Homo sapiens: one gene and its partners. The protein of the gene in region 5 purifies or fractionates together with the protein of the main gene of each other region. This does not show direct contact. Each region holds a gene or a part of one and is shown on either strand. Other genes may lie near its edges. The genes, in order: SPTA1, CALU, ACAD8, SFXN4, PTPN22, SLC25A19 and GLUD1.

Evidence for each region.
Region 1: the proteins of PTPN22 (region 5) and SPTA1 purify together in Homo sapiens (affinity purification with mass spectrometry, with the first as the bait; one study listed by BioGRID). This does not show direct contact.
Region 2: the proteins of PTPN22 (region 5) and CALU purify together in Homo sapiens (affinity purification with mass spectrometry, with the first as the bait; one large-scale study listed by BioGRID). This does not show direct contact.
Region 3: the proteins of PTPN22 (region 5) and ACAD8 purify together in Homo sapiens (affinity purification with mass spectrometry, with the first as the bait; one large-scale study listed by BioGRID). This does not show direct contact.
Region 4: the proteins of PTPN22 (region 5) and SFXN4 purify together in Homo sapiens (affinity purification with mass spectrometry, with the first as the bait; one large-scale study listed by BioGRID). This does not show direct contact.
Region 6: the proteins of PTPN22 (region 5) and SLC25A19 purify together in Homo sapiens (affinity purification with mass spectrometry, with the first as the bait; one large-scale study listed by BioGRID). This does not show direct contact.
Region 7: the proteins of PTPN22 (region 5) and GLUD1 purify together in Homo sapiens (affinity purification with mass spectrometry, with the first as the bait; one large-scale study listed by BioGRID). This does not show direct contact.

Annotation. Positions count from the first base shown.
Region 1 is NC_000001.11:158,641,716-158,645,215, forward strand, and holds part of SPTA1 (spectrin alpha chain, erythrocytic 1), read right to left. Parts: coding exon 3,473-3,500; intron 2,682-3,472; coding exon 2,538-2,681; intron 1,781-2,537; coding exon of another isoform or gene 1,711-1,780; coding exon 1,607-1,710; intron 1,262-1,606; coding exon 1,099-1,261; intron 828-1,098; coding exon 696-827; intron 1-695.
Region 2 is NC_000007.14:128,763,359-128,766,858, reverse strand, and holds part of CALU (calumenin isoform a precursor), read right to left. Parts: intron 1-3,500. UniProt on the Homo sapiens protein: Involved in regulation of vitamin K-dependent carboxylation of multiple N-terminal glutamate residues. Seems to inhibit gamma-carboxylase GGCX. Binds 7 calcium ions with a low affinity.
Region 3 is NC_000011.10:134,263,568-134,266,355, reverse strand, and holds the end of ACAD8 (isobutyryl-CoA dehydrogenase, mitochondrial), read right to left. Parts: exon of another isoform or gene 2,411-2,788; intron 1,449-2,410; coding exon 1,396-1,448; 3' UTR 501-1,395; downstream 1-500.
Region 4 is NC_000010.11:119,148,715-119,152,214, reverse strand, and holds part of SFXN4 (sideroflexin-4), read left to right. Parts: intron 1-3,500. UniProt on the Homo sapiens protein: Mitochondrial amino-acid transporter. Does not act as a serine transporter: not able to mediate transport of serine into mitochondria.
Region 5 is NC_000001.11:113,858,213-113,861,712, forward strand, and holds part of PTPN22 (tyrosine-protein phosphatase non-receptor type 22), read right to left. Parts: intron 1,249-3,500; coding exon 1,140-1,248; intron 867-1,139; coding exon 790-866; intron 362-789; coding exon 266-361; intron 1-265. UniProt on the Homo sapiens protein: Acts as a negative regulator of T-cell receptor (TCR) signaling by direct dephosphorylation of the Src family kinases LCK and FYN, ITAMs of the TCRz/CD3 complex, as well as ZAP70, VAV, VCP and other key signaling molecules.
Region 6 is NC_000017.11:75,286,634-75,290,716, forward strand, and holds the start of SLC25A19 (mitochondrial thiamine pyrophosphate carrier), read right to left. Parts: upstream 2,801-4,083; 5' UTR 2,721-2,800; exon of another isoform or gene 2,456-2,720; intron 1,959-2,455; 5' UTR 1,869-1,958; exon of another isoform or gene 282-1,868; intron 170-281; 5' UTR 132-169; coding exon 1-131. UniProt on the Homo sapiens protein: Mitochondrial transporter mediating uptake of thiamine diphosphate into mitochondria. It is not clear if the antiporter activity is affected by the membrane potential or by the proton electrochemical gradient.
Region 7 is NC_000010.11:87,088,344-87,091,843, reverse strand, and holds part of GLUD1 (glutamate dehydrogenase 1, mitochondrial isoform a precursor), read left to right. Parts: intron 1-220; exon of another isoform or gene 221-2,282; intron 2,283-3,500. UniProt on the Homo sapiens protein: Mitochondrial glutamate dehydrogenase that catalyzes the conversion of L-glutamate into alpha-ketoglutarate. Plays a key role in glutamine anaplerosis by producing alpha-ketoglutarate, an important intermediate in the tricarboxylic acid cycle.

The DNA of each region.
Region 1 (3,500 bases), about 45 Mb from region 5:
TGTAAACTGGTTCAACCATTGGGGAAGACAGTGTGGCAATTCCTCAGGGATCCAGAACTAGAAACACCATTTGACCCAGCCTTCCCATTTCTGGGTATATACCCAAAGGATTATAAATCATGCTGCTATAAAGACACATGCACACATATGTTTATTGCGGCACTATTCACAATAGCAAAGATTTGGAACCAACCCAAATGTCCCACAATGGTAGACTGGATTAAGAAAATGTGGCACATATACACCATGGAATTCTATACAGCCATAAAAATGATGAGTTCATGTCCTTTGTAGGGACATGGATGAAACTGGAAACCATCATTCTCAGCAAAGTATCACAAGGACAAAAAACCAAACACCGCATGTTTTCACTCATAGGTGGGAACTGAACAATGAGAACACATGGACACAGGAATGGGAACATCACACACCAGGGACTGTTGTGGGGTGGGGGGAGGAGGGAGGGATAGCATTAGGAGATATACCTAATGCTAAATGACAAGTTAATGGGTGCAGCACACCAACATGGCACATGTATACATATGTAACAAACCTGCACATTGTGCACATGTACCCTAAAACTTAAAGTATAATAATAATAAAATTAAAAAAAATACAATAAATTAAAAAAAAAGAAAGAGTAAATGATTCCTCTTCATGTGACTTTGTAGCCCAAAACTCATCCTGAGCTTTACCTTCATGGCCTCTTCATTGCCATCACAAGCGCTACACTCAATCAGGGAGTTCCCCAGGTTGATGACGCCATGCACCTGCTCAGATCGGCCATCGACTTCATGTGCAAAGGTCTGGTGTTTCAGGTATTTCCTCTGAAGGGAAAATGAAACAGAAATTATATTATCTTTTTATTTATGGTGACAAGATAAGGTAAATTGTATTTAAAAGGAAGGGCTAATATTTCTATCATAACTGAGGTGACGGTGACTTCTGAAGAACCTGCTCCACATCAGACTCTGAAGTCTCTGAGAGCAGGCATGGTAGCCTCAACAGTCAGAAAGTGTTAAAGTATCAAGGGTGATGACTATCCAACCAACAAGCTCGGAATGGTGAAATTTTCCAAGATTCCTATTTTGAACTTGCCTGAATGTTAGTGGCGTCTTTGTAGGATTCATCACAGGCTGTGGGCAGCATCTCACTGATCCATTCTTCCAGCTCCTCAAGGTCTCGGTAGAATTGTTTTAGGTTGGCATAGTCTCCAAGCTTTGTCCGCTCATCAATCAGTTGTGCTTTGAGAGCCTTCCACCTAGAGGACGGAGCCAAATCACTCTATGCCCTCCTCCACCCTTCCCATGCTCTGATGCCATATCCATAAATCTTCCCATTTGCCAACATGCCTCTTTTCTTCTCACATAGTCTTATTATTTTCATTATAAAATGCAGTGCTAAAGCCAGTTAATTTCTAAGGTATCTTTCATCTTTCATGTCTTTCATTCTATAAATCTAAGTCAGAAAGTCTGCATAGGTGTCAAGATAGTTTTAGTCACCTAGAAATGACAGGAAGCCAGAGTATTCCCCCATCTCAATGCTAGCAAAAAGGTCAGTTTGCTATATCTTCCTTTGGCACATAAAACAATCACTCAGGCCTGACCTGTCTAGTACACGTTGGAGCCGCGTAGCAATCTCTTCTTTGGCATAGTGTTCATCAGCAATGAGGCTCTCAGCAAAATGTTCTAGGTCAGTGATCTTCCCTTCCTAAATAAAGGAAAAGGAAAGAGCCCAGATGCTTGGAGATTAGGCTCTTGGTGCAATCCCAGACTCCCTCCTAGAAAAGAATGAAGGTATCCTTTGTGGATTCAGAAGATATACTCAGGGTCAAATAATATATGCCTTACAGGGAGGTGGGTTTCAACTTAATAGGAGGAGAAACATCTAATAATGGGCTACTTGTGTGGTACAGAGTTCCCTAAAGAACAGACACTTCTCATGACCATTGTAGAGGGTGAATCCTTTATTGAGTGAGATGATGAAATGACTATTTAATCAATCCTAAAAGTCAGAGTTTAGAATGCTGGATTTAAAGTAAGAGAGTCTGCTTGCTGCCTGTGACTTGGGTGAAACAATGTCAAGTGTCAAGCTGCCCTGCCTGCCTCAGTTTTTCTGTAAGAAGCAAACAAGAATCAGGGCTGGGCACGGTGGCTCACTCCTATAATCTCAGCACTTTGGGAGGCCGAGGTAGGTAGATCACTTGAGGTCAGGAGTTCGAGACCAGCCTGGCTAACATGGTGAAATCCTGTTTCTGCTAAAAGTACAAAAATTAGCTGGGCATGGTGGTGGGTGTCTGTAATCCCAGCTACTCAGGAGGCTGAGGTAGGAGAATCACTTGAACCCGGGAGGCAGAGGTTGCAGTCAGCCGAGATCACACCACTGCACTCCAGCCTGGGTGACAGAATGAGACTCCATCTCAAAAAAAAAAAAAGTAAATCAAAATGTTTATAAATTATAAAACCAGACAAATGTGTAGGATTTCTGTTATTATTACTACGGATTATTATTTTAATTCCTTTACTAGTCATTATTACCTGGGCAGTGATTGCTTTGTCCAAATCGTCCCGTTTCTTCATCAAAGCCTCCAGACTGTCTAAGGAACTTTTGTCATCTGACCTCAGGGAATTCTCACGTGCCACCATCCAGCTCTCAACTTGATCACAGTTCCCCTGGAACATCTATGAGGAATCAAATGAGAGGGGTATGGTATAGTCCATGTGGTGTGGAGGAAATGATGTTACACCTCTTTCAGGATCATGACACAAAGGGTTTTGCAAGGAGTACTTACCATCTTCCAAGAAACACTCATGTGACAAATCTTAGCTGTACTGGAACTTTTCCTCTTTTCCAAACATACACTTTATGTTTCTGTATATGCTACCTCCAATTCCTGGGGTGCTATTTCCTATTTCTTAAACCTTGTTAATACTGGCTGGTCATTTCCTTAAGACTTTGTGAAACGTTATCCTTCAGGGTAGCCTGTGACACAACCACTTACTTCCCCCAAAAGCTTTAATCACTTCTTGTTTTTTAGCCTCAAAGCACTCGTACATTTTGGTTTATTAATAATCATCTCACTGTACTAGTAAAATTTATCTATATGTCTAATTTCACTATTTAAGAAATGGGAAACTATCTTACTAATCTTTGTGGCACTCCGAGCCTCCACAGAGTAGAGTCTCAACAAAAATCAGCCAATCAATTCCTCAGTCAATCAACAAATGATAGTCAACCCACCTCATGCTCAGGACTGATCACCATCTTGTTTGGCTCTTCTAACAAGAAAGAGCAGAGAATATGACAATGATCGGTATAGAAAGCATAGTACAATGCTAGGTAATTAAGAGATGAGCTCCCTTTGTGTTTATAACGTGGAAAGTCTAGTGAACGGAGCCTGTAATGACCATATGAAATTGCATAGGAGAAACAGACTACTGAACCTGCTTAACAATTGGGAAATTTGCTGTACCTGCAACTCCAGGCACTGGTCTAGGATC
Region 2 (3,500 bases), on a different chromosome or scaffold from region 5:
GTCCCACTTTATAAAAGAAAGGCATATTTTCAACCATTTTGAAACTAGAGTGTAAAAAGCTCCAAGATAATGAAAAAGAAACAATTAGAAATACTAGTGTCTGGATGGGCGTGGTGGCTCACACCTGTAATTCCAGCACTTTGGGAGGCCTAGGCAGGCAGATCACCTGAGGTCGGAGTTTGAGACCAGATCACCTGAGGTCAGGAATTTGAGACCAGCCTGGCCAAAATGGCAAAACCCCATCTCTACTAAAAATACAAAAATTAGCTGAGCATGGTGGTGCGTGCCTGTAATCCCAGCTACTCGAGAGGCTGAGGCAAAAGAATCACTTGAACCCAGGAGGCAGAGGTTGCAGTGAGCCGAGATCATATCACTGCACTCTAGCCTGGGCGACAGAGCAAGACTCCGTCTCAAAAAAAAAAAAAAAAAAAAAGAAAAAGAAATACTAGTGTCAGTCTTGAGAATGCAAATGCCTGAAAAAAAATGAATAAATTCGTTTGCATGTCAAAAGGTTTTAAATTCTTTGCTTTAAAAAAAAAAACCTTGAAAAATGGCCTAATTGAGTTTTAGCTAAGGGATCATTAAACATAATTTTTGGGCTGGGTGCAGTGGCTCATGCCTGTAATCCCAGCACTTTGGGAGGCTGAGGCGGGTGGATCACTTGAGGTCAGGAGTTTGAGACCAGCATGGCCAACATGGTGAAACCCCGTCTCTACTAAAAATAAAAAATAAAATTAGCCGGGCGTGCTGGCCCACACCTGTAATCTCCAGCTACTGGGGAGGCTGAGGCAGGAGAATCGCTTGAACCCCAGAGGCAGAGGTTGCAATGAGCCGAGACCGTGCCTGTGTACTACAGCCTGGGTGAGAGAGAGAGACTCCACCTTGAAACAAACAAAACCCATAATTTTTGATGATAGATTACATGATTTCTGGCATGTAACTCAAAAGGAGTTCCAAGAACTAAGCAATATTGCTATGACAAATCTTCCATCAACTTATTTACTAATGTAAACAAGGTCTGTTAGTACTTCCTCTAAAAAATAAAAATTAGGAATTGGTGCTGAATCCCATTTCACTCTAGGGATAAGTAATTGTCATCCATGGATATGAAACTATTTGAATAAAAATGTGTCAAAGAAATGCATTTAAAAATATATAAACATAAAACGTCTGTAATAAATGTTATTTTGTTCAATTGTGTATTAATAATTGTAATAGTAACTTAACACAGAAGACTCTAAAAACACTTAAGAGCCATATCACAGAACACCATTTTCCATATTTCAATTTACATACACAATGTTCTTGCAAATAAGAATGTCAAAGTGACTAAGGCTTCAAGATAAAATATGTCAGAATATAATTCTGTTGAGGAAGTAAACTGCAAATGAATCTAACAAATAGAAGGCTGACTTGTGAGTTTGAGATCAGCCTGGACAACATGGCAAAATCCCTACAAGAAATACAAAAATTAGCCAGGCATGGCAGCATGCACCTACAGTCCCAGCTACTCGGGAGGCTGAGGCAGGAGGATGGCTTGAGCCTAGCAGATCGAGGCTGCAATGAACCATGATCATGCCACTGCACTCCAGCCTAGGTGACAGAGTGAGACCCTGTCTCAAAAAGAAAAAGAAAAAAAAGAAACAGGAGGTCGGGTGGCTGATGTCTGTAATCCCAGCACTTTGGGAGGCCAAGGCAGGTAGAGCTCTTGAGCCCAGGATTTCCAGACCAGCCTGGGCAATGTAGGGAGACCCATGTCTATAAGAATAATAATAAAAAAAATCAGCTGGGTGTGGTGGTGCTCTTCTGTGGTCCCAGCTGAGGTGAGAGGATCACTTGATCTCCCCACCTTGGAGATCGAGGCTGCTGTGATTGTGCCACTGCACACCAACATGGGCAACAGAATGAGACTCTTGTCTTTTTAAAAAAGAAGAAGAAGAAGAAACAGGATGCGTGTAAAATGTCCAAGTTGGTTAACAGTTTATTCATTTATTTTTTTAAGACAATATCATGTGGTGACTGATAAGTAGTATAAATATCCCCAAATCCCTATAAATTTAAACAAAAAAAAGGGCAATTAAGTGATGGTCACATTGTTGCTAACCAAACGCCATAACTAAAAAAAAAAAAGTACCAAAGAAACATTTCCTTTTTAACTATTATGAAATGTAAAAAATTACGGATATTTTCTTATATACCCACAATGCCACTTTCATATTTTACAAAATCAATTCCTTGGTATCATCTAATACCCAGACTGAATTTAAATTTCTTGATTATCTTTTTAAAGTTGTCGTGTCCAAATTATTCATATGAAAGACGGCAGGTAAGAAGTTGCTATGGTATCTTGTATTTAAATTTTATAGATTTCTTTCCGAATTACTTTCAAAATGTCAATGCTTATCACCAACAGAGATTATTCTTTTTTCTTCTGAGACAGGGTCTTGCTCTGTTGCCCAGGCTGGAGTGCAGTGGTACAATAACGGTGCACTGCAACCTCAAACCCTCAGGCTCAAGTGATCCTCCTGAGTTGCTGGGACTACAGGCACACGCCACCATGCCTGGCTAATTTTTTCTTTTTTTTTGTATTTTTTGTAGAGACAGGGTTGCGCCATGTTGTCCAGGTTGTTCTCAAACTCCTGGGCTCAAGTGATTCACCTGCCTCAGCCTCCCAAAGTTCTGGGATTACAGGAATGAGCTACGGCATCCGGCCCAACAGAGACTATTCTTTACAACTGTTTAAATTTCTTAATTAAATATTTCAGATGCCAACTTTAAAACACATAAGGGAATGCTGTTGGTCAAATTCTTTCAGGAGTTATTTAAGTGAACAAGTCTGAAAATGCTTGAGTTATACGACATCTAAGTTAAGTGTACCTGCATTGCATGTAAGGTATGGGAAAACACCTAAAGAGAAATCTAAATAGTTCCTGCAAGTTCTAAGCAAAGGTAATTATTTAGTCAGTGCTGCCATTTTCCTGACCTTGAGGGTTAAGGGTAGAAGTACTCCTCTGTCTTAAACTCACAAGAGAAATTCCTCACAGCAGGACTTGCCAATTTTTTCCCATGCTACAGCACATTCAGAAAATGTAGTTTGTACGGTCCACTGGATCAGGTTCCTGCCCTAGCTGTCCTGAAAGCCAAGAAGACTTACTCACAGGATACAGATTGGAAAGTTCTGAATTAGGAAATAGACACATGCTTAAAAGATATGGTTTTAAAGGAAGCTAGAATACACAATACACTACAACGTAAGCGCATTTTAAAGCTAGGTGACCATGATAAACTATTTGAATTTCTATTTTTATTTATTTTACTTTATTTTTTTGAGACAGAGTCTTGCTCTGTCGCCCAGGCTGGAGTGCAGTGGCGCGATCTCGGCTCACTGCAACCTCCGCCTCCTGGGTTCAAGCGATTCTCCTGCCTCAGCCTCCTGAGTAGCTGGGATTACACAGGCACATGCCACCACACCTGGCTAATTTTTATATTTTTAGTAGAGA
Region 3 (2,788 bases), on a different chromosome or scaffold from region 5:
TGTAGTTAATGTCTTGCGTATTCTTTTCAATAGGGATGAGGGGATGGAGTAACATAGTAAGTTATAACAGAGCTCCCCTGGCTGGGCACAGTGGCTCACACTTGTAATCCCAGCACTTTGGGAGGCCGAGGTGGGCAGATCACTTGAGGCTAGGAGTTTGAGACCAGCCTGGCCAACATGGTGAAACCCTGTCTCTACTAAAAATACAAAAAGTAGCCGGACGTGGTGGCTTGCGCCTGTAGTCCCGGCTACTTGTGAGGCTGAGGCAGGAGAATCGCTTGAACCCCAGAGGAAGAAGTTGCAGTGAGCTGAGATTGTGCCACTGCACTCCTGCCTGGGCGACAGAGCGAGACTCTGTCTCAAAAACAACAAAAAACAGCAAACAAACAAACAAAACAAGGTCTCCTGAAGTCCCATCTGTGAATCTCACTTTAATTCTACTTTCATACATCATAAACAATGCTTAGTTTGCAAAGTTATTAATAATTTAAGGAGCCTGCTTTTTAAAAGCCAAATTGGACGAGAGTTTTATTATTCCAAAATCCAGTTAAGTGTTTAATCAAATACAATTAAACATTTAAAATAAAAATCAACTATAGTAGAACCAGAGGTGGTGAAGGATAGATTTTATCAATGTGATTAAAAATATTTAAAAGGAGGAACAGCTTCAGAAAAGGAAACAAAAACACAAAAAAAATATTCAAAGTGTTTATCAGGAAAAGAAACACTGAATAGCACTCCTAGACCACAGGCTTCTTAACATGAAACCCAACGAATATTCAAAATTCAAAAGTCTCAGCCCTTGATATTGAGGCAGTCCAGAAGTAGAAATACACCCTAAATCACAGCTTAGGAGTAAGTTTCCAAATATCCATTTTATCATGATTTACATTCAGAGGTGTGCTATCCAGAGAAACCTTCTGCATCTGTAGCTGTGGCACAGAGAACGACACAGACAGGAGGGCATTCCTCCATTTCCCCTTCCCACACCTTTGCTCTAGAATCAGGAAGAGCATCAGTGAAAGTCCCCAGGCCCCTAGAGGAGGGATCCAGTGAACTAGTAAAATGCAGACTAATCAAGATAAAGTGGATCCAAGAAAGGACTTTCATGGTTTGACGGTGAATCTTCACTGGTCACCCTTCTGGCATTAGGAAAACAAGGTAGTATGTGTTCTTCTGATGTTTCTCATCAGTCCAGCTCTTCCGGTTCCACTGGGGATTCTGCCCCAGTCCAAGACCCGATGCTGGTGCCAACACACAGGGTGCAGGTCCTGCCCTAGAGGAGCTCAGCCCTTGGGTCTAATCCATGATTCCTTTGGAATAGAGCGGCCCACATGGCACCACTCAACACTGACTGCAGTCGCACTGAACACCAGGCCAGAACAAGTGTGGGTTCTACTCCTGAAGCAGGCTTCTAGAGATCAGTATCCTCATCACTTCATTGCTACCTGTAAGAGGGAGGAAGGAGGAAGAATTTCACAGCAGCAAAGTCTGAGAGTTTAGTAAAGCTCTGACCAGGCTGCTCCAGGCCTAGTTCAGAGTAGCTGCAGATTTAAACTACAATCATTGCTTTTAGCCTGGGAGAGATGAGATTATCAGAGACTTCTCTACAAAGTACTGAAAAATGTCAGGAAATAATACTTTTTTAAAAACTTCTTCTGATGGTAAAAATGCTTATATAAAGTTTAAAAAGGCAGAATAAAAACAGTATATACAGGATAATTCTAATTAAAATTAAAAATGTACCAACAAAGGCAGAGTAAAATGCCTAAAAGGAGATGTACCAAAATAACATTCTGGATGTAGAAACATGAGTGATTTTTTTTCTTTTACTTTTCTTTTGAGACAGTCTTGCTGTCGCCCAGGCTGGAGTGCAGTGGTGTGATCTTGGCTCACTGCAACCTCCGCCCCCCAGGTTCAAGCAATTCTCTTGCCTCAGCCTCCTGAGTAGCTGGGACCACAAGCATGTGCCACCAGGCCCCACCAGGCCCGGCTAATTTTTTGTATTGTTTTTAGATGGAGTCTCACTGTCACCCAGGCTGGAGTGCGATGGTGCAATCTCAGCTCACTGCAACCTCCACCTCCTGGGTTCAAGCGATCTTCCTGCCTCAGCCTCTCGAGTAGCTGGGATTCCAGGCATGCACCACCACGCCCAGCTAACTTTTTATAATTTTAGACAGTCGGGGCTTCACCGGGTTGGCCAAGCTGGTCTCGAACTCCTGGCCTCACGCGATCCACCCGCCTCAGCCTCCCAAAGTGCGGCGATTATAGACATAAGCTACCGCACCCAGCCTACTTTTCCTAATTTTATAAGGTTTCAACAATAAATACACATTTCTTTGGTAATCAGAAAACTGACTTACAAAAGAATGAAAACATTTTCCCTGAAAGGAGGGTATCAATTATTTGCTTCATTTTTAGCAGTGGCCTTTAATGCAAAAAGAAATATAAACCCCCTCGAGGAATCAGTAGTCACATCGTCTCAAATAAAGCATAAACTGTAGATTTATCCAACAGTAAAGTCCATGATGAAACAAAGTGATACAGTGATGAGTGCCCCAATTCTTCTGTAAGTGGGTGATGGTGTGGCCTACAATAAATGTTTTCCTGCTTATTATTGCAGGGTGGAGAGAGAGTTAGAATGAAGGCGAAGTTTCCTACGCACATAAAGCTCAGTGAGAAAGCAATTCCAAGAGTAATGGAAGGAAAACGACTCTCGGGAATTCAGTTTGAACACTGGCGACTGAGCCCATAAACATCTTTCTGGAATGAGGTTTGCAGAAGAAAG
Region 4 (3,500 bases), on a different chromosome or scaffold from region 5:
TTTTTCAAACAGCTTTATTGAGGTATAATTTACATACTGTAAAATTTACCCATTTGTAAGAGGATAGTTTGATGAATTTTAGTCAGTTTAAAACAGTTGTGCAGCCAGGCATGGTGGCTCACTCATGCCTGTAATCCCAACACTTTGGGAGGTAGATCGCTTGAGTCCATGAGTGCGAGACCAGCCTGGGCAGCATAGCAAAACCCTATCTCTACAAAAAAATTTTTAAAAAATTAGCTAGGCATGGCGGGGTGCATCTGTAGTCCCAGCTGCTTAGGAGGCTGAGGTGAGAGGATCAACTGAGCCTAGGAGGTTGAGGCTGCAGCGAGCTATTATCACACCACTGTACTCCAGCCTAGGTGACAGAAAGAGACCCTTGTCTCAAAAAATAAAACATAGGCCAGGCGCGGTGGCTCACGCCTGTAATCCCAGCACTCTGAGGGGTCTGAGGCAGGTAGATCACCTGAGGTCAGGAGTTTGAGACCAGCCTGGCCAACATGGTGAAACCCTGTCTCTACTAAAAATACCAAAATTAGCCGGGCATGGTGGCTCATGCCTGTAGTCCCAGCTACTCAGGAGGTTGAGGCAGGAGAATCACTTGAACCCAGGAGGCAGAGGTTGCAGTGAGCTGAGATTGCGCCACTGCACTCCAGCCTGGGTGACAGAGAAAGACTCTGTCTCAAAAAATAATAATAATAAATAAATGAAACAGTTGTGTGACCATCACCACAGTCCAGTTGTAGAACATTTTCATCATCCTAAAAATGTCCCAAATGCCCACCCCCACCCCCACCCCCAGCCCTAGGGAGGCACTGATCTGCTTCTTTTTTTTTGTTTGTTTGTTTTGAGTCAGAGTCTCACTCTGTCGCCCAGGCTGGAGTGCAATGGTGCGATCTTGGCTCACTGCAACCTCTGCCTCCCAGGTTCAAGCGATTCTCCTGCCTCAGCCTCCCAAGTAGCTGGGACTATAGGTATGCGCCACTGCGCCCAACTAATTTTTTGTATTTTTAGTAGAGACGGGGTTTCACCATGTTAGCCAGGATGGTCTCGATCTCCTGACCTCATGACCCACCCGCCTCGGCCTCCCAAAGTGCTGGGATTACAGGCGTGAGCCCCCATGCCTGGCCACTGACTTGCTTTTCTGTCTTCTTAGTTTTTGCCTTTTCCAGAAATTATACATAAGTGAATCACACTGTAGTTTTTTGTGTCTTGCTTCTTTCACGTTTGAGATTCATCCGTCTTGTACCACATGTTGCTCATTTGTTACTTTTCATTGCTGAGTAGTATTCCGTTCCTGGATGTGCCGCATTTTGCTTATCTATTCTGCCGGCGGTGGACGTTTGGGTTGTGTCCAGGCTTGGGTTATTATGAATCAGGCTGCTCCGACATTCACTTGCACATCTTTATGCATATGTGTGTTTGTATTTCTCCACAACTCCATGTGAACTTAAGGTGTTAGTATTGCTCTGACCTATTCATAAAGCTGGAGAGGAGAGTGAGAGCACATTTTTTTAAGTTCGTTTATTTATTTATTCATTTATTTATAGAGACAGAGTCTCCCTCTGTTGCCAAAGCTGGAGGGCAATGGTACGAACATGGCTCACTGCAGCCTCAACTTCCTGGGCTCAAGCGACCCTCCTGCCTCAGCCTTCTGAGTAGTGTGCACCGCCATACATGGCTAATGTTAAAAAAAAAAAGTTTGTAGAGATGGGGTCTCGCTATGTTGCCCAGGCTGGTCTCAAACTCCTGGCATCAAGTGATCCTCCTGCCTTGGCCTCCCAGAGCGCTGGGAGGTGTGAGGCACTGCACCCAGCTTAGAGCAAATATCCAATGAGCAAGTTGTTCCCAGCACCTCCTGCCTGCCAGGCTTGGTGCTAGGCTCTGGAGACCCACACCCTGATCAGTGAGAGCCCCGTCTCCCCAGCAGCCCCAGCCTCCAGCGGAAAGGTAGCCTCAGGCCTGACTGGCTGTCTGGAGTCCATCTCACCAGAAGAAACTTCATTTTTGGCATGAGGGGCATGTTAGGGTCAAAGAAAAGCTTTACTGGTCTACTTTAAAAAAAAAAAGGTCTTTTTTTTCTCTGAAGAATAAAGTGTCTGCAACTGTGCATAAGCATTCTTCTATCACTTCCCTGTCCCTGGAAGGTTATTTTCTTCGGCTAAAATTTCAGAAACTGCGTAACCAGCAATATCTGATGGTAACAGGGCACGGTTGGTCCAATTTCAGGTGACGCGTGGCTGTTGTTTCCCCCGACTGGCCCCATAAGCCACTGCTTTGCACACAGCGCCTCCTAATGACGGCGTCTCACTTGGAGTGTCCTCCCCACACATGGGACTAAGGGAGAGAGGCGGGCCTCGCCCCACTGATGTGGACACACAGCACACTAACAGCCATTTTTCCCTTCCGGAAGTCAAGCAATTTTACTTTATATCCCTGAGACTTTTATTTTATTTTCTTTTATTTTAGAGACTGAGTCTCGCTCTGTTGCCTAGGCTGGAGTGCAATGGTGTGATCTTGGCTCACTGCAACCTCTGCCTCCCAGGTTCAAGTGATTCTCCTGCCTCAGTCTCCCGAGTAGCTGGGATTACAGGCGCCCACCACCACGCCCGGCTAATTTTTGTATTTTTAGTAGAGACAGGGTTTCACTATGTTGGCCAGGCTGGTCTTGAACTCCTGACCTCAGGTGATCTGCCCACCTTGGCCTCCCAAAGTGTTGGGATTATAAGCATGAGCCACCGTGCCCGGCCCTTAAGACCTTATTTTAAAAACAGCCCTCCTCGGCTTCCTCTCTTTTGTGGGGGGGAAAGGCATTCCCTGCAGAGGGAACCATGCAAGCGTGACTGTCACCCACAGCAGGGCAGAGGTGCAAGCAGAGAGCAGGGGCCGGGTGGTAGGAGGAGCCTGGGAAGGTAGGTCAAAGCCAATCATGGGAAGCTGGAAGTGGAAGGAACAGAGTTCAGGGAAGGACGGGCGCAGGTGTGCCTGCTCCTCTTGGGTACACGATGTGCTGTTTGTGGTGTGTGTGTCTTACCCAGGGGTGGGTTCTAAAGTTAACATGTTAGCTACTCAGGAGGCTGGGGTAGGAGGATTGCGTGAGGCCAGGAAGTCGGGACCAGCTTGGGCAACATAGTGAGATCACATCTCTACAAAAAATCGAAAAGTTAGCCGGGCCTGGTAGGGTGTACCTGTGATCCTGGCTACTCGGGAGGCTAAGGTAGGAGGATCACTTGAGCCTGGGAGGTCAACACTGCAGTGAGCCGTGATCACGCTACTGTACTCCAGCCTGGATGACAGAGTGAGACCCTGTCTCTAAAAATAAATAAATAAATGAAAGTAGTAAAAAAGTTAACGTGAGCTGTCTTATAGTCAAAATTTCCCTTACAAGTCCCTTAAAGTGCCCTTGAGGGTACATGGTTTTGTACATACTCACCCATACAGTAAATTGTATGTTTAAATGTTTAATGTATAGAGTAATGTACATTATAGAAAAGATTACAAAA
Region 5 (3,500 bases):
ACTCCCAGCTAATTTTTGTATTTTTTGTAGAGACAGGGTTTTGCAATGTTGCCCAGGCTGGTCTAGAACCCCTAGGCTCAAGCTATCCACCCCTCTTGGCCTCCCAGAGTACACCTGGCTGAGAACTTTCATTTCCTTGGACAAGAATGGCATTGTGATTCTGACTAAAAGATGCCTGAACCCTGAAGTTCCACTGACCAATTTTTTAAAAGCACTGTTTTTAATAAAGTAGAGAATAAAGTAACAAAAGCAACACCATACTTACAAGGACACTATATTCCCAAATCATCCTCCAGAAGTCCAGGAGGGTTGTAGATAAAGGACCCTGGGTGGCAATATAAGCCTTGGGTCCATAAACTCCCTAAAGGGGAACAGAAATTACACGGGGTGACTACAAATAATACCCTGTTCTCACCTAGTCCTCCGCTTCCTTTTTTTTTTTTTTTTGAGATGGTCTCACTGTGTTACCCAGGCTGGAGTGCAGTGGCATAATCACAGCTCACTGCAGCCTTGACCTCCTGGCTTCAGGCAATCCCCTTTCCTCAGCCTCTCCAGTAGCTGGGACTACAAGCGCATGCCACCACACCTGGCTAATTTTTTAACTTTTTGTTGAGATGGGGTCTCATATGTTGCCCAGGCTGGTCTGAAATTCTTGCGTTCAAGTGATCTTTCCGCCTCAGCCTCCCAAAGTGCTGGGATTACAGGCATGAGCCACTGAGTCCAGCCAGCCCTCCCCTTTTTTTGGGTATCTAGAGAAATATGGAATGCTTTTATTTTCTTTCACTGTACCTTAATGAAGTTGGCATTGATGTAGCTGGAATCCTCATCAGAGGTTATCAGGGATAGTTCTACCCGGCTATAATCATCTATAATACAAAAGACAGACATAGTACAATTAAGAGGGCTTAGTCAGCAGATTTAAATCAGGGCCTAACACTGTGAATAGTGTATGCTCATGAGTGAACAAGTGAGTGAATGAATGAATGAATGAATGAATATTCTTTTGCAGTCATAAATAGTACAAACTAAGTTGTCAATGCCATGTTCCAAGATCAGGATCAGTAAGCAATGGGTACAAAGAGATAGTAATGATTGAATTTGGGAGAAAGTATGAGTTTATAGAGAGAAATGGAACTTACAGGGCAAAATATCCTTATATCTGTTTTTCTTGATATTCTTGGGCTTCTCAGCCACAGTTGTAGGATAGGTTTTGTCTGCCTTGTACTTGGTAGATTGCCTTTTCAGCTTCTGTAATAAGATTCCAAGAAAAATTAATCTTCCTAGAGAAATGAGGTAAGAAGCTATCTCTAAAGAGCTTTCCTTTTCCACTGGCAAAACATTCTACCTCAACCCTTTTATTATCTTCTGGTTCTGACTCCGTTCAGGACAGAGCTGCAGAGCATAAGGAGACCTGAGTTCAGTGACATTTGGGGAAGTGAAAAGATCACACTTACTGCAGCTGAGCCATAGATAGCGTGAACTTAAAAGTGAAACTTGTGAATATTTTAAGAACCAAATATCTTCTGGAAGCAAGCTATATGCTCCACCCAATGGGCAGATATTAAAAGCTTAATTTACTTTCTTTATAACTGCTTTTTAGTTAAATGGTCAACTGGAAAATAATTAAGTTCTATTAGTCTTTTTACTTCAGATCGCTTTTTTTTCTAAGTGGAAGTGGAGCTTAAGCTGAATAAAATTTCTCTATATCTAGCAAAATTTCAAAGATTTCAGTTCCAAAAGCAGTCACTTTTTTTTTTTTTTTTTTTTGAGATAAAGTTTCACTCTGTCACCCAGGCTGGAGTGCAGTGGCTTGACCACAGCTCAATGCAGCCTCAACTTTCTGGGCTCAGGTGATTCTTCCACCTCAGCCTCACCTCCCACCTCAGCCTTACCTCCTGAAAGCTGGGACCACAGGCACAAGCATCACACCTGGATAGTTCTCATATTTTCAGTAGAGAAGGGATTTCACCATGTTGCCCAGGCTGGTCTCAAACTCCTGGGCTCAAGCAATGCACCTTCCTTGGCCTCACATAACTTTTATTACTGTAGATTATCATAATTGTTCTATTGTATTACTAGCTATTATTGCTAATCTCTTATTGTGCCTAATTTATAAATTGACCTTAATTATAGATATGTATGTATAGGTAAAAACAACATAGTGTACGTAAGATTTGGTACTATCTGCAGTTTCAGGCATCTACTATAGGTCTTCAAACACATCCTCCGTATATAAAGAGAGCCTACTGTAGTTTGAATTCCTCTGGATTTTCAGAACTGGATTTGAGAGGAGAGATACTGAACTGATATCTTTTTGTTTGTTTGTTTGTTTAACTTTGAACCCCAAGAAGCTACTGAACTATCTTTATAGCATATTTTTACTTCAAGATGGATATGGATACAAGTGGACTAATTTGGGAATTTAAGGACACATGAAAGACTAGGCTGAATTTCAGCTGAAGTTACACCAATTTTTCAAATCTCCCTGCTCTTAAGCAACTTCAGAATGATCATTTTCAGGTTGCTGTTGATCCCAGGGCTGCTGAAAAGATCTCAAGTCCCAGAACAGTTTCTTCTAGGAGTCTCCAGAACTAAGCTCAGTGCATACTCCTTGTTATACTGTTTTTATTTATTTTTGTTTTATTTTGCTTGTGGAACGCTTTCTAGGGAGAATGCTATACACAAAGCCCTTTGCGTAAGATATCCTTCAATTAATTTGGCAAAATGTTACAGATAAAGGTGATGGGTGTGTGTGTGTATGTGTGTCCTATATTTGTTTAGCTGCCTTCACTGCTACCTTCAACAATAAGGCAGAATGGCTTTCATTTTTCCTACTCCTTTCCTCCCCCTCGAGTAATCTAGCTGGATGACAAAAGCAGACACTCTTAGCAAAACATCACACAGGAAATGCCTACAGAATTATTCATTTGTAATGTATGAAAGATTTGATTTTTTTCCCTCAAACATCTTATCTTAAGGTCATACCACTGTGAAGTCTTCCTTTTTCTTTCTGTTTTTTTGTTTGTTTGTTTTTGTTTTTGTTTTTGAGACAAAGTCTTGCTCTATCGCCCAGGCTGGAGTGCAGTGGCATGATCTCGGTTCACTGCAACCTCTGCCACCCAGGTTCAAGCAATTCTCATGCCTCAGCTTCCAAAGTAGCTGGGGTTACAGGCGCCCGCCACCATGCCTGGCCAATTTTTTGTATTTTTGGTAGAGACGGGGTTTCACCATGTTGGCCAGGATGGTCTGGAACTCCTGACCTCGTGATCTGCCCGCCTTGGCCTCCCGAAGTGGTGGGATTACAGTCGTGAGCCACCGCGCCCGGCCAATTTTTTTTTGTATTTTTAGTAGAGACAGGGTTTCGCCATGTTGGCCAGGCTGGTCTTGAACTCCTGACCTCAAGTGATCCCCCCACCTCGGCCTCCCAAAGTGCTGGGATTATAGGCATGAGCCACCGCGCCCGGCAGGCTTCATTTTTCTCTTCCACCTCTCTTCCTGCC
Region 6 (4,083 bases), on a different chromosome or scaffold from region 5:
TGGAAACGGATCTTGATGACGTCGAAGGGACTGATCAGCGCCCGAGTAACAAGTCCAGACACAGACCCAGCCACTGCCACCTGGAACTTGGTGTTATTCCTGCCATCTGGTTTGGGGTCATAGCCAACCATCCCTGCCTCTGGCCCACACAATGTCCATCAGTATCAAGCTAAATGCAAGAGATACGGAATAAACACCAGGCAAGTTTCTTATGGTCTCTGCTCAAATATCACCTCCTCAGAGCAGCCCTCCCTGACTAGACTGTCTAAAATAGCACTCACTTTTGGACTGGGCGCAGCGGTTCATGCCTGTATCCCAGCACTTTCGGAGGCCGAGGTGGGTGGATTGCTTGAGCTCAGGAGTTCAAGACCAGCCTGGGCAACACTGCAAAACCCCAACTCTACAAAAAATACAAAAATTTAAAAATAAAATAAAATAGCACTTGTTTTATTCCTCTTTACAGTACTTATTACTATGGCATATTTGTTTACTTTTTTAGAGACAGGGTCTCACTCTGTTGCCCAGGCTGGAATGCAGTGGTGCCATCATAACTCACCATAGCCTTGAACTCCTGGGCTCAAGTGATTCTCTTGCCTCAGCCTCCCAATTAGCTGTCACTTAACAGGTGCAGGCCTGGCTAAGTTTTTTATTTTTGTAGAGATAAGGTCTCAATGTTGCCCTGGCTGGTCTCGAACTCCTGGCCTCAAGTGATTCTCCTGCCTCAGCCTCCTGAATTGCTGAGATTACATGCATGAGCCACAGCGCCCGGCACGCCATGGGTTATTTATACAGTACATTTGTTTCTTGTCTCTCTCCCTGACTAGAATGTAAGCCCGTGGAAACACGACCTTGGTCTCATTTGTTCACTCGTAAATTTCCGGTTCCTGGAATAGAGCCCATCATGGTAAGTGCTTAATAATATTTGAGAATCGAATGAACAGGCTTGATAGGCAATTGTTGGTCCCAGAGATCAACTGGTTTTCCAAGACATCTGGCAACTTTATAGCAAACTCCTGCTCACTGAGTGAGCCCACTCAAGTGTAACGCTGAGGGACTGAAGGACGTGCAGGGCTGGAGAACAGGGATTGGGATTCTTTAACAATCCCCCACTGTCCAAAGGAAGAGCCCTGAGGCCCTGAGCCCCTTCACCTTTCCCTTTCCCCTCCTGCACACACCTCAGACCACCCCGGCACAGTGGGGCCATGCTACGCTAGCAAATGATGCTCCTGGCCAGGCACCGTGGCTCACGCCTGTAATCCCAGCACTTTGGGAGGCCGAGGCGGGTGGATCGCCTGAGGTCAGGAGTTCAAGACCAGTCTGGCCAACATGGTGAAACCCTGTCTCTAATAAAAATACAAAAATTATCTGGGTGTCGTGGTGGGCGCCTGTAATCCCAGTTACTTGGGAGGCTGAGGAGGGAGAATCACGTGAGCCTGGGAGGCAGAGGTTGCAGTGAGCTGAAATCACGCCATTGCACTCCAGCCTGGGCTACAGAGTGAGACTCCGTCTCAAAAACAAAAAAACAAAACAAAACAAAAAAGAAAATGACGCTCCTGGGCTCCCCTGACTCAGACCTACTGACCTCTTCAGCCTCACTCTGGACCACTCTTCCCCTTCCCTCATTTAACCAGAGTGGTCTGACTGCTTCTGCCCAGTTCCTGGAAAACTCGGGGAGCACTCCTATCAATTGCCTTGCCTCTACTCCTCCAGTTCCCTACGTCTGAAATACAGCCCCACTCTCAGCCCCTACTCACTTTTTCAAGGCTAGCTCCTCTCATCCACCAGAGCTCAGCTAAAAAGCATCCCTTCCAGGAGATGTACTTTTTTCCTTTTTTGTAAAAACAAAAAACAAAAACAGTAATACCTACATACGGTCTGTAGAGTTGTACAAAGCATAGAAAGAAGTCTGTAACCACACACATCAACAGGTAGTTGGTAACTGATCACAGGGAGAAGGGCTGAGAAGGGAAAAAGGAAGGTAGACCTGTCGATAATTCTATACTGTTTGAATTTGTTATGGCAAAAAAAAAAAAAAAAAATCCCTAAAACTAGCCTTCAGAATTACCCTAGTTCTTGAATACTTGTAGTAGTGGGGGTGGGGGTGGGGGAGGAGGGGAGATACTACCTACAGGATGGCAGCCTCCACCCCAGACATCAATTCCTTTTCTCCTCTCACCCACCCTGGAACTCCTCCCCAGGCGCCCATGAGGAAGTTTAAACACGCGGCAAGCGACTGAGAGGCAAAACCTCTCCAGGGGTTACCCAGGGACCGCTCAGGTCACACTGAGCAGCGTGTTTCCCGCCCATCTGGGCAGAAAGGAGGAGCAAGCCCGAGTGGCAGGTGTCCTGGATCGCTGTCAGGAGACCGGAGCATACCAGGCTCTTCCTGGTGTTCGGGTGCCCATGTGCCCAAGGGCTCAGCTGAGCAAATCTGCAGAGGTCCCCGTGTGGGTACCTAGGTGTCCACGTGTGCCTCGGGGTGTGTTTTTTCTCCTTGAGTCCGAGGGGACGCCCTGGAGCTCAGGTGCTCAAGGGCGTGCGCGGGGCTCGGCCGCCGGTGTCCCTGGAGATGCTTCTCTGGTCTGGTGTGACACGTGTGTACACAGTCCCCGCCCTCTCGTGAGCGCCCGGGTGCGTGTGCTCCCTCCCGACCACCCTGAGGAGCGAGGGTGCTGGTCCCCGAGAGGGCGGCGAGAAGGACGGAGGTAGAGGTTACTCACACGGCTCGGCGGGTGCGGCCCGGCTCAGCGCTCTCCGCTCTCTCTAGCTCCTCGCGCAGTCTTAACAGCAAAACTCTACTGAGCTCGGACGAAACTGGCGGGCTCCTGGGCCAATCACCGTGCAGCTCCCCGCCAGACGCTGGACCAATGGTTGTGCGCTTGAGGTCTGGCAACCGCCTCCCGCAAGATATCACCGGGTAATGTAGTCCTTCGCGACCAAGGGCAGGACAGCTGGACGGCGCACAGCTTCCTGGGAGATGTAGTCCGGCTGCTCGCGGGCGCGCGAGTTCGACCGACGCGTTAGAAGGAGGTGCCTTGCGAAGCCGGGCTGCGACCTTAGGGGTCGCCGTGCTCTGGCGTGTGACTCGAAAGTCAGCCTGCAGGCGGGGTCCAAGGTTAGGGCGCGGTAGACTTGACCCGCTTTCCTCAAACTCTGTTAATGCCAGAACCCGGATAATCTCAACTTGGTAAAGATGGCAGGAAGCCTAGCAAAAAGCTGGAGGACGTCGGGAAGAGAATAGATGAGAACAGTCCCCTCGGGGACGGGGAAGGCAAAAACACGAGTGTCCCCCCCTCTCACCCCGAGTTTTAGTATTTCTCATTATAAAAGTAATATTAAAAGTATATAGACAGAAAATATAGAAAGGAAGGAGGAAATGACTCATCCTACCGCCCGCACACAACTAGCGTCACGGTTTTGCGCGACAGTATTGCCTCCTGACTTTTTAATTGCATTTTTATATTCGTGTTATCATTTTGACGCACAATTTTAAGACATTTTTATTGTAGAAAATTTCAAGATACACAGAAGTGGAATAACCCGATGAAGCCGCGTAGAGTCGCTCTCCGACCTCAGCAGTTACGCGACTCATGGGGCAATCTTGTTTCCTCTATTTCTGCACCTACCTCGCACGCGCTGCCCAGCGTTATTCTGAAGTAAATACCATCACGTGTTTTCACCAGTAAATATTTCAGTATGTGTCTTTAAAGGACAAGCATTCCCTTTTTAATACGTATACATTATGCTTCACACACACACAAAACTGTCACTCCGACCCCCCAAAAAAACTTTTAATATCAAATATGAATTAGTGTTTACACTTTTCTGAAAGAAAGAAATGTTCTTCTTTTTTTTTTTTTTTTTTTTTTTTTTTTTTTTTTTTTTTTTTTGAGACAGTTTTGCTCTTGTCGCCCAGGCTGGAGTGCAATGGTGCTATTTCAGCTCACTGCAACCTTTGCCTCTGGGGTTCACACGATTCTCCTGCCTCAGCCTCCCGAGTAGCTGGGATTACACGCGTGCACCACTATGCCCAGCTAATTTTTTGTATCTTTAGTAGAGATGGGGTTTTGCCATGTTGGTCAG
Region 7 (3,500 bases), on a different chromosome or scaffold from region 5:
CACCCTTTTACCAACCTTCAGCTTTCTGTATCTCATTTTCCCTCAAGAACAACCTTATCCCTGAGTTTTCTAAATTAAAATTCTTGAGGTTGAAGCAAAGCAACAATCTAGCAATAATCTCTAAGGGAAACAGATGGTTATAAGACTTGGTGGCTGATGTGTACTTTTTCCAAGTAAATATTTAATAATACACACTGTTTTTGTGCTTTTCTTTTCCCAGTTACTACATGTACCTGAGGCCGTTAGATTTGTCTGTGTTAAGGATTTGAAAGGGTAAGCTAAAGGATCTGAAGGGAAGTTTAAGTGAGGCCTTAAAAATATTTCCAGCAAAGGGGCATAGTGTGAGAATATGCGACTGATTTGAGAAGACTGGTTCAAAAGTTCTGGTGGGTTTGGAAATATTATCAAAGATTGTTCTATTAACTTTCCCAGAGTAAATTATCTGTATTTCATTTGCTATGGTTCTGCCTGAGACCAGTCTACCTTTTTAGAAGGAAGTTTATTGTTTTAAAGTCAGTTTGGAGGGAAAGTACAGATTGATAATAGCAATTTATTGATGGTAGGAGTCAATTAACTTTCTCTTCCAGTCTGCCCCCCCCCAGTTGTCTTGATATTAAAACTATTAAAATTCCCTATCACTGATGCTACTATCATAAAATTTTCTAAAATTATCATAATTTACATATAGTTGATGGACCGTAGATGGAGTTCTCTCATACATTGACCCTAAGTCTTTTAATTACAAATATTAGTACCCAAAAAAGTGTACCCTATATTAATCCAGTAACTAGTTTTTAAAAGTCAAAATGCCAGAAGGAAACAGTGGAATCTTGATGACATAATGCAAGGGAAGACCGGAGTCAATGCAGTGTTAAAGACGCCCTCAGCCTCTGGGATGTCATTGTTTAGCGCTTAAGGGAAGACTATAGAAAGCACTGATACTGATTTAAAATGAGATATTTCTCTGCCTTCACTGGGGGAAAAAATGTTTCTGACTTATTTTGCTGTGCTCAATTGACAACCATCAAAACTTAGGTAACTTTTAATAAACTCACAGTTTCTAATATTTTTAAGTGGCTGTGTGTCTGCATCTGCTGCCACAGATAAAATATAACCTTTGTAGGTGAATTTAATTTAGGACTTTTCTGAAAGTTCAGTCAGAGGATAGGTAATTTGTGTGTCTTTTAAAAGCACTTAGCCCCGAGGTTGTTGTTTTTAATACATCTTATTTAAATACGGAAATGTGTTGCCCTTATGCCTTTTTATTTCATGGAAGCCAAATGCGTCTTTTCTCCCAAAGTATACTAGAAAATGAAGACGCTTGGTAATGGTAGTGATCTGTACATCAGATTTCAGTCTTTCTGTCACTTGCGTGTATGAATCCATTTAGCAAGTTTGCTTTTGGCAGTAAAGCCCCACGTGCAGGAAGACAAACAGCTGCTCACTCATTATCCAAAGTATACTTTGTAAGAATTAGGGCATCAAAAATTGGATCCTAAGCACCAATATATATTAAAGTTCAGTACAACTTGTAGTGTTTAAGTACAAGAAATAAAAATTGAGCCTGAACTTTTGGCATATAGTGGGAAGAAATTAGGTTTACCGCTGTTAATAATTCAGAGTGCTTAGGAAAATCGGTTTTTATTTACTTATGTTAAAAATACTAAGGGTTCTGTAACCATTAAAAACTAAAATACTAACCTGTAGATGTTGAAAAAATCCTAGACACTAGTCTCTGCCACGTGACTGTTCTTCTTTTCTATTTATTTTACCCAATAATTAGGCTTTTACAATGTAAGTAATAAAGAGAAAAATCTCTAGTATCACTTTAGAGCACATTGATTCATAAATAGCCCATAAATTTTGTACTCAGCAACCCATAAAATACACATGCATGATTCACATAATCAAATAGTAACGAAAGTTACAAAATGAAAAGTGAAGCAGCTCTACCCCAAGTCCTTCCCCCAATATAACCATGAACAGTCTTAAATCTAATGCCGCTGTCTAAAACTGACTAGTTATTCAAATGAATCAATATTTTCCCCTTTCCAGAGGCAGAAATTAATACAGATTCAAGTGTTCACTATCAAGTCGGAATTGTTAATATGTGAAATACTACTGTTAAAGGCAGGAAAGGCTTTATTAAGGACAAGAAGACAAACTAGGAGAAGGAGCTACTCAAGACCTTCCGATTATCTTTACAAAAAGGCAACTACACCTAGAAGATTCTGCAGCCACACACATTCTGCCTTCACTTGAGGTCAACTGCCTTCACCAAGGTCAGATATTAGCAAAGGCTAACATTTATTCAGCTCTGTGTGTGCCAGGCATTTTATTAAGAACTTTTCATGCATCATCAGTTCTATGCCTTATAGCAACAATGCATGTAAGAACTTTTCATGTATCATTGCTTTTATGCCTCATGCAATACACTGTTGTCCCTGATTTCCAAATGTGGCTACTAAGGTTGAGGAGTGAAGTGTCCTTTGGCAGGGTGACACAGCTAGTACGTAGTGGAGTTGAGGTTCAGATTCTGGGCATCTGATTCCAGCACCCACCTTAATCATTGTTGTCTGGGATTTATTTATGCAAAAAGTTACAAATTGTATCTTAGGCTTTTAATTGTAAGCGCTGATTGAGAACCACTTCATGCCATTGACACAATGCTTCCTAATACTTTGGATCATAGATACCTTTGAAATTTCTGTTAAAAGCTATTAGAAGACCTACCTTCTTCCTAGAAAAATACATATTCAAACAGCTTTGCATATAAAACTCAGCATAGATGATATCTCTAGAGGTCCATTTATTCTAATTGCTAAGGAAATGAAATAACCTTTTTCCCCTACACCCAACTCCGAAGACCTGAAATAACATTTTAAACAGTTTTCCATCAAAAGAGGTTTGAAGACTTTGGTGTTTAAGAGATTAATGTGTTAGCCAGAACAACTCATTTCTCTACCAGTGTGTAGTCCATTTATCTTTAAAGATTTTCTATTGAATAATTTTGAAATTACTTTCTTAGTTTTCTTCATTAAAAACTAAGAAAATGCTTTGTTTATTATGAATTGCTATTTCTCTTGATTATTATTCTTGGAGAAAGTCTATCAGACGTAATTCTTCTGATTTGCTTCTAGGCTAGAGGAAAATGTGAAAGATGACAAATGAAAATTTCAAAGGTTGTCAGTAGTATGACTTCTTTTATCGTTTGTCATTATCACAAATATATCAACATAGGACTTTTAAAAGATATTTTGTACATATTGGGCCTTAGTAGGATTTTGCATGAATTTTTTTTTTCTTTTATGCCAAGAGAGAAAGAGCAAAGAAATAACCAAGGGTGATGTACTCGTATTGAAGGTTTACCAAATAAGGACTGCTTTTATTATGAACTATAGTCTATATTCTAAGTAAATCAATTTTTCTATTATGTGTTTTTTGTTCCTGCAGGCAAGATCTCTGAACTTTATGCAGAGGGTTCTTTTAAAAAAACAAAG